2 separate regions of the Homo sapiens genome follow, and region 2 is linked to region 1. Evidence: fine-mapped expression QTL. A gene starts in region 1. The other region holds a variant in brackets. All regions are shown on one strand. Distances are from middle to middle.

Region 1 (5,380 bases):
AGGCAGTTTCATCATTGTGCGAACATCAGAGTGTCCTTACACAAACCTAGATGGGAAACCCTACTACATACCTGGGCCATATTGTATAGCCTATTGTTCCTAGGCTACAAATCTATACAGCACGTTGCTGTACTGAATACTGTAGGCAACCATAACACAATGGTATCTGTGTATCAAAACATCTCTAAACACAGAAATGGCATAGTAAAAATACGGTACTATAATCCTATGGGGCCACCATCCTATAGGCAGTCTGTCGTTAACAAGAACATCCTTCTATGGTGCATGACTGCATATTTGACTTTACAAAAACTCATGATATTTTGATTTCTAAATAATGTTTGAAATATTTAAATATTTCTAAATAACATGCTTAACACTGTGCTTGGCACATGGTCAGTTCTCTGTATTATTATTATTAGTGTTTAATCAATGTTGGTCATGTTTCACACAAGGGAGAATACTTTTTTCTTCCCAAAAGGTTTGCTGAGCTCTTTCATGGATTTGAAGTGTGTCCCTAAGGGGTCAAGTTTTGCTGGGGAATGCAATGACTCTGACTCTGTAAAACAAACTGAGAAGATTTAAGATTCTCACAGGTATTCTGAGGAGCGCAGAAGTGAGAGGAGAAGAGAAAAGAAAGGAGTCTGCAAGATGAAGACTGAGGACTCATTCCCATGAAGACCACAAACTTTCATTGTTGAGGAGGGAGGTGGGTGAAGAATATTTTGCAACTCGGGATGGATCAATATACAGTTTGAGGGTTTTATATTTCAGGAATGTGAATAACTTCTTTCATGCCACCCTACTTCCAGCTTCTGTAACATTTATAATATGCAATGTGCATGAATGTTATGAATAGGTTTACGGTGGAAATCATAGAAGGGTCTACATTTCTCATTTGAGTTGAAACAGTGTAGATCCCAGAGAGCAGCCCAGAAGCAGAGGCCAGGAACCAAAGGGGACCAGAGAACAGAAGTTGCCAAGATCTCCGAAAAATCTCGGCCATGGTTTGAGCATGGTTCCTCAGCAGACACCTATCTTATGTCTTCATAGTAATGAAAGCCATTCTGGTTTCGTATCTGGGCATGATTCGGTAAGGCATGATAAGCCTGGTTCCGAAGTTCTGTACCTGTCCCAGCTGGGTCAGGTCTATTTTTGTGGTAGAATCACCTACAGTTAAGAGAATCCTTGGCTTGGAGGTTTTCTTCTTTTTTTTTTGAGACAGGGTCTTGCACTGTCGCCCAGGCTGGGGTGCAATGGCGTGATCTTGGCTCACTGCAACCCCCGCCTACCGGGTTCAAGTGATTCTCCTGCCTCAGCCTCCTGAGTAGCTGGGACTACAGGCGCGCACCACCACGACCGGTTAATTTTTGTATTTTTAGTATAGACGGGTTTCACCATGTTGGCCAGGCTGGTCTCGATCTCTTGACCTCGTGATCTGCCCGCCTCGGCCTCCCAAAGTGCTGGGATTACAGGCGTGAGCCACCACGCCCGGCCGGCTTGAAGGTTTTCAAGGGCTAGAGAGGAGCCCTGCCCTGGCTCCTTAGGTACAGCCAGAATCGGCCTTTAAGGTATGGGATATCTGACTCCTGCAGGACTGGAACTCCACGTGCTTGGAGGGATAAGCATTTATGATGTAACCACTAAGTAGTCAGAGGGCAGGAGGAGTAACGCTGTTGCTGGGCAACCTGGCTTAGCTTCGTGGCTTTGGTTAAGGTGCTACTCTATGCAAAATTCCTTGCCGTCTTCCCTAATCCGCCTCCCCAATTCTCCCTTCCTGAACATTAGGGAACCCACTGGCCTGCTTACAACTGAAGCAGTTTCTGTGTTAGGGCAGAGAGTAGTGATCAAGACATTAGGGTTTAGTGTTAGATAAACCAGGCTCCACTCTGCGGCCCCACGCAACCTCCCCACGCTCTCTGCACCAGTGTTGGCATCTGTCAAGTGGGTGGGGGCTAACAGTGAATAACTGCCTCATAGATGGACTACCGGCTTAACCAGAGACTGACAGCGGGTCGCATATTAATCTTCCAATCACTTGGCAAACTCGTTTCACTATGCATCTCTCCTCCTGGCTGTTCTTTCAACTTCCTCCTCCCTGAAATTTCGAAGATCCACCTCGGTGGGAAAGTCATTCCGCGTGGCGCGCCCTTTCCCTGCGTCCCTCCTTCCCAGGGCCCACCCTCCGCGGACGCAGAGCGTCTGCCGGGGGGACGGCAGGTCCGCGATGGCTGCCTCTGAGGCAGTCGGTCCCCTCTCGCCGTGGGCTTGGGAAGCGTCCGAAAGGCCCGCTCGGATCGTCTGCGGTGCTGCCCGCAGGGAAAGCGCCGCTGCCAGCCGGGCTGTCACGGGTGCGAGTGGAAGAAGCACACCGCAGGATGAGCGACGCCGCTGCAGAGGTAACCGCGGGGACTGCGGCCAGAGACGGGGGATGGGCGCAGCCGAGGATAACGGGATGGCCGGCATCCGGAACGCGTCAGGCCCGCTCCGCCGGACCGCCTTATCCTCCAGCCCGCGTCCCCAGCCGTCCTCCCAGATCCCGACCGCAGCTCCAGAAGTGACGGCCACGTGGGTGGCGGCGCGCGCCGCGGGGATTGGAATGTTGGCGTGGGGGGACGAGGTTGGAAGGGCCGCAGAGAAGTAAAGGAGGACCCGCGTCCGCGTGCCCGGGCGCCGACTGCTGGGCGACGCCGCCGGGAGCGAGCACGCCTCTGACGTCACGCGCTGCTCGTCCAATGAGTGGAGGCCTGAGGGAGGCGCCGGTCCCGGCCCCGCTGCCGCCGCCGCCACACCGGCCCTTCGGGAGCGTCTGAGGAGGCGCGGGCCGCTGCGGGCTCGGGCGCCGCAGCGCGCCGGCCCGAGCCCCTGGACGAGGCCCACGGAGCCGCTCGCCCCGACCCAGCCGCCCGATGTCCTCAAAATGGAGGCAGCGGGGGCGGCGGCGTGAAGAAAGCGGCGCTGTGGGCGCGGGAGTAGGGGCCCGGGCGGAGGCGGTGGCGGGATGGGGCTGCTGCTCATGATCCTGGCGTCGGCCGTGCTGGGTTCCTTCCTCACGCTCCTCGCCCAGTTCTTCCTGCTGTACCGCAGACAGCCCGAGCCGCCGGCGGACGAGGCCGCCCGCGCGGGCGAGGGCTTCCGCTACATCAAGCCAGTGCCGGGCCTGCTCCTAAGGGAGTACCTTTATGGCGGCGGCCGGGATGAGGAGCCCTCCGGAGCGGCCCCTGAGGGCGGCGCGACCCCCACCGCGGCCCCCGAGACCCCCGCCCCGCCGACGCGGGAGACTTGCTACTTCCTCAACGCCACCATCCTATTCCTGTTCCGGGAGTTGCGGGACACCGCGCTGACCCGCCGCTGGGTCACCAAGAAGATCAAGGTGGAGTTCGAGGAGCTGCTGCAGACCAAGACGGCCGGGCGCCTGCTGGAGGGGCTGAGCCTGCGGGACGTGTTCCTGGGCGAGACGGTGCCCTTCATCAAGACCATCCGGCTCGTGCGGCCAGTCGTGCCCTCGGCCACCGGGGAGCCCGATGGCCCTGAAGGGGAGGCGCTGCCCGCCGCCTGCCCCGAGGAGCTGGCCTTCGAGGCGGAGGTGGAGTACAACGGGGGCTTCCACCTGGCCATCGACGTGGACCTGGTCTTCGGCAAGTCCGCCTACTTGTTTGTCAAGCTGTCCCGCGTGGTGGGAAGGCTGCGCTTGGTCTTTACGCGCGTGCCCTTCACCCACTGGTTCTTCTCCTTCGTGGAAGACCCGCTGATCGACTTCGAGGTGCGCTCCCAGTTTGAAGGGCGGCCCATGCCCCAGCTCACCTCCATCATCGTCAACCAGCTCAAGAAGATCATCAAGCGCAAGCACACCCTACCGAATTACAAGATCAGGTGAGCTGGAGGTCGGGGAGGGGGCCTGGCTGCCGGGAACCCGGGCCTGGGCGGGACGCTGCGTGGATTGGGAAGGGCAAAGGCTCATTTCTGTCCTGGCGCCTGCTTCTGGGGCCTTCCCACCCTGGACAGGGCCCCAGATCAAGGCGAGTCGTGAACACTTGCTTTGCTTCCGAACGGCATTGATAGGAGCTAGAAACCTTTTCGCGTGTTCATGGGGACTCAGGGTGCTGTCAACGCGGGCAGAATCGTCTCCTTTTATAAGCAGCATATTGGAAATGGAAGGGAAGCCTACCCTAATCCCCAGGAGTCGCTTCTGGGACTGTTGAGAAACTCTCCCTCTATGTGGTTGCTGCATTGAGGGCAGCCGCGTCACTGGCTTTGCAGCATCCCCTTGGCCGCTTTGAGAAATTGTTCCTGGACACAGTACACGCGTGAAGAGTGTGCTTATAGCCCAGGTCTGTGCTAATTTGACATTGCAAGCCACTTTTGCTTTGATGGTTTGACACCTTTCAAGGCAGAGGTGGTAACTCTTGCAAAGGAATACTTTTGTGGGTTTTTTTTGTTTTTGTTTTTGAGACAGAGTCTTGCTGTGTCGCCCAGGCTGGAGTACAGTGGCGCGATCTCGGCTTACTGCAACCTCTGCCTCCCAGGTTCGAGCGATTCTCCTGCCTCAGCCTCCCAGGTAGCTGGGGTTACAGGCGTATGGCACCACGCCTTGCTGATTTTTTTTTTTTTTTTTTTTTTTTTTGTATTTTTTAGTAGAGACGGAGTTTCACCGTATTGGCCAGGCTGGTTTCGAACTCCTGACCTCAAGTAATCCGCCTGCCTCGGCCTCCCAAAGTGTTAGGATTACAGGAGTGAACCACCGCGCCCGGCCCGGGAATACTTTCCACAGCAGATGGGAAAGGAGTTGGGAGCCTGTACATAGTGTACTTTACATTTTGTATTAATGTCATTTGCCCATTTTGGGTAGATTGTAGAACACAGATCCAGACTCTGCCCATCAAGCATTTACTCTCTGTGACTGTAAGTTCTTCTCTCAAGGGACCTGAAGTCACTGTACAAATTGTATTTTAATGCTAGGTAGTGATTTTAATTTTGTTTAAGCCTTCCAGCATCTGATGGCTTAAATTTTGTGGTATACAGTTTTGAGTAGTATATAAATTTTGTTTTAATATTGTAGGAGTGGAAGGGGAAAGACTTTTTTAGGGCTAGAGGTGGAGTGGAAGGTGCTTTTTCTTTTGTAAAAAGCTGAATTTTTAACTTCTCTTTCGGTCCTCCTTTAATTTTGTATTCACTAAGACATTTGAGCCTTTAAAATTTTGCCCTTTATTATAAAATTATGTCAGTCTTGTATTTTACTTACCTAATTTTACTTGCCTTTTAGTGGAAGTTGCCTATTTCTGGATCACTAATTTTCTACCAGTGTCAATTTTCAGGAGCAAGATAATCCAGAAATATTTTGGGTTTGGAATGGATTATTGACTTCTGTATGTGGCAGATG
Region 2 (5,380 bases), 20 kb before region 1:
CCATAATATCACACACACACTGATATGGTTTGGCTCTGTGTCCCCACCCAAATCGCAGGCCAAATTGTAATCCCCACATGTTGGAGGAGGGGTCTGGTGGGAGGTGATTGGATCATGGGGGCAGACTTCCCCCTTGCTGTTCTCATGATAGTATATGAGTTCTCATGAGATCTTGTTGCTTTAAAAGTGTGTAGCGCTTCCCCTTTATTCTTTCTGTCTCCTGCTAGGCCATGGTAACACATGCTTGTTTCCGCTTCACCTTCCGCTATGATGGTAAGTTCCTGAGGCCTTCCAGCCATGCTTCCTGTACAGCCTGCAGAACTGTGAGTCAATTAGACCTCTTGGTAGTTCCTTATAGAAGCATGAGAACAGACTAATACACACACATACACACTTCTTAAAGAACATGTGTGTTCCTTTGTCACATGGGACCTGGTGCTCAGCACTGGCATATCACTACCCCTAATCCTAAACATCTGCTCCTGGCACCAACGCTGCTCAAGCCCTAGGGAACACTTTTCCATATTTCTTACCTTTTATCCTCAAAACAAAGGCTACCTGTCCTGAAGGTCATAAAGGTTTTTGGGTTGCTGCTGCCAACATCAGAGATGGACACAGCTTCAGAGGGCAGAGAGCATTTTAGTGGTAGGGACCATTAGGAAGAGAAAAAGCAAATTAATTAACTTGTCAATTTCTTCCTCCCAGAGAGCATGAATAAAACAGATTTTTGTTTCGCATAGTATCATTCCCTGTCATGCTGAGCTTTTCTTTTCATTTTATTTCTTTCATTTGTGGTTCCTAAACTCTTCATGAATTACACGAATCACATAATAAAATGTCACCATGTGGTTAGGCTGTAGTAGAACCATCACGTATCAACTATCCATAACCCAATGTCATGATTGACATCTTGAAGATATGATTTGTAATTTTAGGCATGAAATAAGTGCATGTAGTACTGATTATTTGTATTGGCAACTAAGTTAAAACGGTGAATGCTAGAATACTGAATAGTTTATTTTTGTAAAAGTATTTATTATGATTTAACTCCACTGTTAAAATTTTAAACAAAAAATGTAACTTTACTGAAATAATTTCATCTATAATTTTTACACTCATTAATTTATAATTTCTACTTTGCCTTTTTTTTTTTTTTTTTTTTTTTTGAGACGGAGTCTCGCTCTGTTGCTCAGGCTGAAGTGCAATCTCACGATCTCGGCTCACTGCAACTTCCGCCTCCTGGGTTCAAGAGATTCTCCTGCCTCAGCTTCCCAATTAGCTGGGATTACAGGCACCTGCCACCATGCCTGGCTAATTTTTGTATTTTTAGTAGAGCCAGGGTTTCACCATGCTGGCCAGGCTGGTTTTGGACTCTTGACATCAGGTGAACCATCGCCCGCCTCAGCCTCCCAAAGTGCTGGGATTACAGGCATGAGCCACCTCGCCTAACCCTTTTTTTTTTTTTGGAAATGGAGTCTCACTCTGTAGCCAGGCTGGAATGCAGTGGCACGATCTTGGCTCACTGCAACCTCCGCCTCCTGGGTTCAAGTGATTCTCCTGCCTCAGGCTCCTGAGTAGCTGCAACTACAGGCACACGCCACCACGCCCAGCTAATTTTTGTATTTTTAGTAGTGGCAGGGTTTCGCCATGTTGGCCAGAATGGTCTCAATCTCTTGAGATTCGCCCACCTCAGCCTCCCAAAGTGCTAGGATTACAGGCATGAGCCACCATGCCCGACCCTCTACTTTGCCTTTTAATGTAAATATTTTTCATGCTTTAAAAATTTTTTTCAAAAATATTCAACTTTAACTATTACATTTACTTTCATTTTACATTTTTGATGGAAATATATTAAAATTTGATACTTTTTGAATATAATTTTATGTTTTAATCTTTTGGATCATATCAATGGAATGTAAATTATTTGCATACTTTAATTGCAATTAGATAATTAGTTTTTTTCTTGCTGTGAAAGAAAAAAAATTTATGAAATATGTAATGACTCATGATATATGTCTTTATTTTATCACTCATTCAAATATTTCTGGGCCATCAATAGCACGTACACAGTAATACCTGAATTCAGTTATTCTTGATATTTTGTAGACTTTCAGTCAGATAAAAACTATAGTTTTCCAACTTAAAAAGAAAATTTCCATTATGAAGTCGTATTTGTCAATGTAGGGGGAGAAAAAA[T/AT]GTATTTTGCAGCTTGATTTATAATTTTCTATTTTGTTATTATTATTTTTTTTAATTTTTTTTTTTAGAGACAGAGTCTCACTGTTACCCAGGCTGCAGTGCAGTGGTGTGCAATCATAGCAGCCTCAAACTTCTGGGCCCAAGCAATCCTCCTACTTCAGTGTCCCAAGTAACTAAAACTACAGGCATGAGCCAACAGGCCCAGCTAATTTTTGTTGTTGTTGTTGTTGTTTTAATAGAGATAGGGTTCCTATGTTGCCAAGGCTGGCCTCAAGCTCCTTAGCTCAAGCAATCCTCCTGCCTCAGTCTCCCAAATAGCTGGGACTACAACGCATGCCACTTAGTTATAATTTTAAATATTTAGACCATTTGTACTCTAGCCCTGGCCCCACATATGTTGAAGATGAGCCTGACTGCTATAATCAGATGATCAGATAGAGTTTTTTAAAAATTTAACTAATAATAGCTAACTTATTGACACTAAATATGTGCCAGGCCCTGTGTTAAGTACTTTCTACATATTATGCCATTAAATCCTCCCAATAACCCTATGTCATTATTCCCACTTTATTTATTTATTTATTTTTAGCTTTTATTTTAGGTTCTGGGGTATATGTGCAGGTTTGTTATACAGGTAAATTGCATGTCACAGGGGTTTGGTGTACAGATTATTTCATCACCCAGGTAGCATATTGCCCAGGGAATAAGCATAGGTAGTTTTTTTATCCTCACCTTGCTCCCACCCTCCACCCTCAAGTAGGCTGTGTTGTCTATTGTTACCTTCATTGTGTCCATGTGTACTCAATCTTTATCTCCCACTTGTGATAGTTTATCTCCCACATGTGAGTACATATGGTATTTGGTTTTCTGTTCCTGCACTAATTCGCATAGGATAATGACCTCCAGCTCCATGATCTTAATCTATTTTATGACTATGTAGTATTCCATGGCATATATGTACCACATTTTCTTTATCCAGTCTACTACCATTGATGGGCATTTAGGTTGATTCCATGTCTTTGCCATTGTGAATAGTGTTGTGATGAACATACATATGCCTGTGCCTTTGTGGTAGAACAATTTCTATCCCTTTGGGTACACACCCAATAATGGGATTGCTGAGTTGAATGGTAGTTCTAAGTTCTTTGAGAAATCGCCAAACTGCTTTCCACAATGGCTGAACTAATTTTCATTCCCATCAGCAGTGTATAAACGTTTCCTTTTCTCTACAACCTCACCAGCATCTGTTATTTTTTTGACTTTTTAGTAATTGCCATTCTGACGGGTATGAGATGGTATCTCACTGTGGTTTTGATTTGCATTTCTCTAATGATTGGTGATGTTGAGCATTTTTAATATGCTTATTGGTTACATGTATCTCTTCTTTGGAGAAGTGTCAGTTCATATCCTTTGCCCATTTTTTAATGGTATCCCCACTTTATGGAGAGGAACCAGAAACCTGGAGAGTTTCCATGACTGGCTCGTGGTCACACAACCCCTAAGTCCTGGAGCTGGGATTTGATCCCAGGAGGCCTGAGTAACTTTGGGAAAAGGCACTTTGAGAGAGGTGACCTTGATGGGCATCCCTGTGGGGAACTTGGACACATGATCGCAACTGGGAGGGTCCAGGTGCTGGGAGGAAGAGTGGCAAGGAGAAGGCCTCCTGATTCCAGTCTGACTAGAGATCTGATGTCACCCAAGCACCAAAAGCTACCAAGTGTCTGAATGGGTAGGGAGAAGTGCCAGTTTTTACCAATTCTTCATGTTCTTCTGATTTCAGCAATGGATGAGTAAGAAAAATATTCCATTTACTTTTATTACTTTGAATTCTCATTCTCAGTCATTGAACAGGTAAATTCAAAGGGCTGATTCCTTCTTTCCTTCTTTATCCCTCCCTCCATCTTTCTTTCTCCTTCTTTCTCTCCCTGTTTTCTTTTCTCCCTCTCTTTCTTTCTTCAATCACATATATATTGAGCTCCTATTATGTACTAAGCACTCTGCTAGGTAATAAAAAAAAGACAGTGCCTCATCATTATGGGGTTCCCTACGTAGTAGGAAGACAGAGGGCAAACCAACATGAAAATCCTAAAAATTACAACCATGGTGAATGCCATACAGGAGAGATGGAGAATGCTAGGAAGGTGTGTATGTGCTAGGGGAATCTGGCCCAGTCTCAGAGTGTCAGGGAAGACTTCCCTGGAAACCTGTCATTGGATCCAGGTGGTAAGTAAGGTTAACCATACACAGATTTGGGAGAATAGCCAAGCTGAGAAAATAGCTTGGATAGAGGCCCCATGAGGAGAGGGAGCCTATGGGTGGGAATACGAAGATTCTGAGAGAAGGCCAGTGAGGCTGGATGTGTGTTTGGATGAAAGGTTCCGACCATTCCTGACCAGGGGTCAACAAATTATGGCCCATGGGCTGAATTCAGCTACAATGATAGAGCTGAGTAGTTGCAACAGAGACATTATGACCCACAAAGGTGGGAAGAAATTCAGAATGCTGTCTAGAAAATGTATTGTCTGCCTTTTATAGAAAAAGTTTGCAGCCAGGGGCAGTGTTTCACACCTGCAATCCTAGCACTTTGCGAGGCCAAGGTGGGAAGATCATTTGAGCTCAGGAGTTTGAGACCAGCCTGGGCAATATAGAGAGACTTCATCTCTCCTGAAAAATTAAAAATAAAAAAAAATTAACTGGGCTTGTTGGCATGAGCCTGTAGTCCCAGCTACTCAGGAGGCTGAGATGGGAGGATGACTTGAGCCTGGGAGGTCGAGGCTGCAGCGAGCTGTGATCACGCCACTGCACTCCAAACCTGAGCAACAGAATGAGATCCTGTCTCAAAAAAAATTTAAAAAGAAGATAAAAGAAAAAAAAAAGTAGATTTTTTTTTTTTAATAAAAAGTTTTCAGACCTCTGAACCAGATGGTGGAGGTCAGACCTTGCAGGCCCATTGATGATTGTGATCTTTGTCTTAACAGCTACGGGAAACCATCAGAGTGTTTTAAGACTGAAGGAGACAGGGAATAACAGGATCAGATTTCATTAGGCACATTCAGGAGTTGAATATATACTTACATTGTAAGGATATCCCAGGCCAGGCCAGTCCTTCCAAAGATCCCTATAAGGGAATTGTGGCATTAATCTCCTCATAAATGGGTTCTAAGTCTTTCTTGCCTGTGGCAAG

Evidence for each region.
Region 2: its variant is fine-mapped to the expression of PDZD8 in whole blood (TOPMed, PIP above 0.99).

Annotation. Positions count from the first base shown.
Region 1 is chr10:117,372,849-117,378,228 of GRCh38, reverse strand. It overlaps PDZD8 (PDZ domain containing 8), which reads left to right and starts at 2,789. Exons shown (of 5, transcript NM_173791.5): 1 at 2,789-3,873. The coding sequence starts at 3,002. RefSeq lists an enhancer at 2,349-2,468 and silencers at 2,699-3,018, 3,119-3,298.
Region 2 is chr10:117,393,134-117,398,513 of GRCh38, reverse strand. No RefSeq gene overlaps it. Among named protein-coding and RNA genes, the nearest start is that of PDZD8, 20 kb to the right of the region's middle. The variant T/AT (reference allele first, on the strand shown) is at 2,197.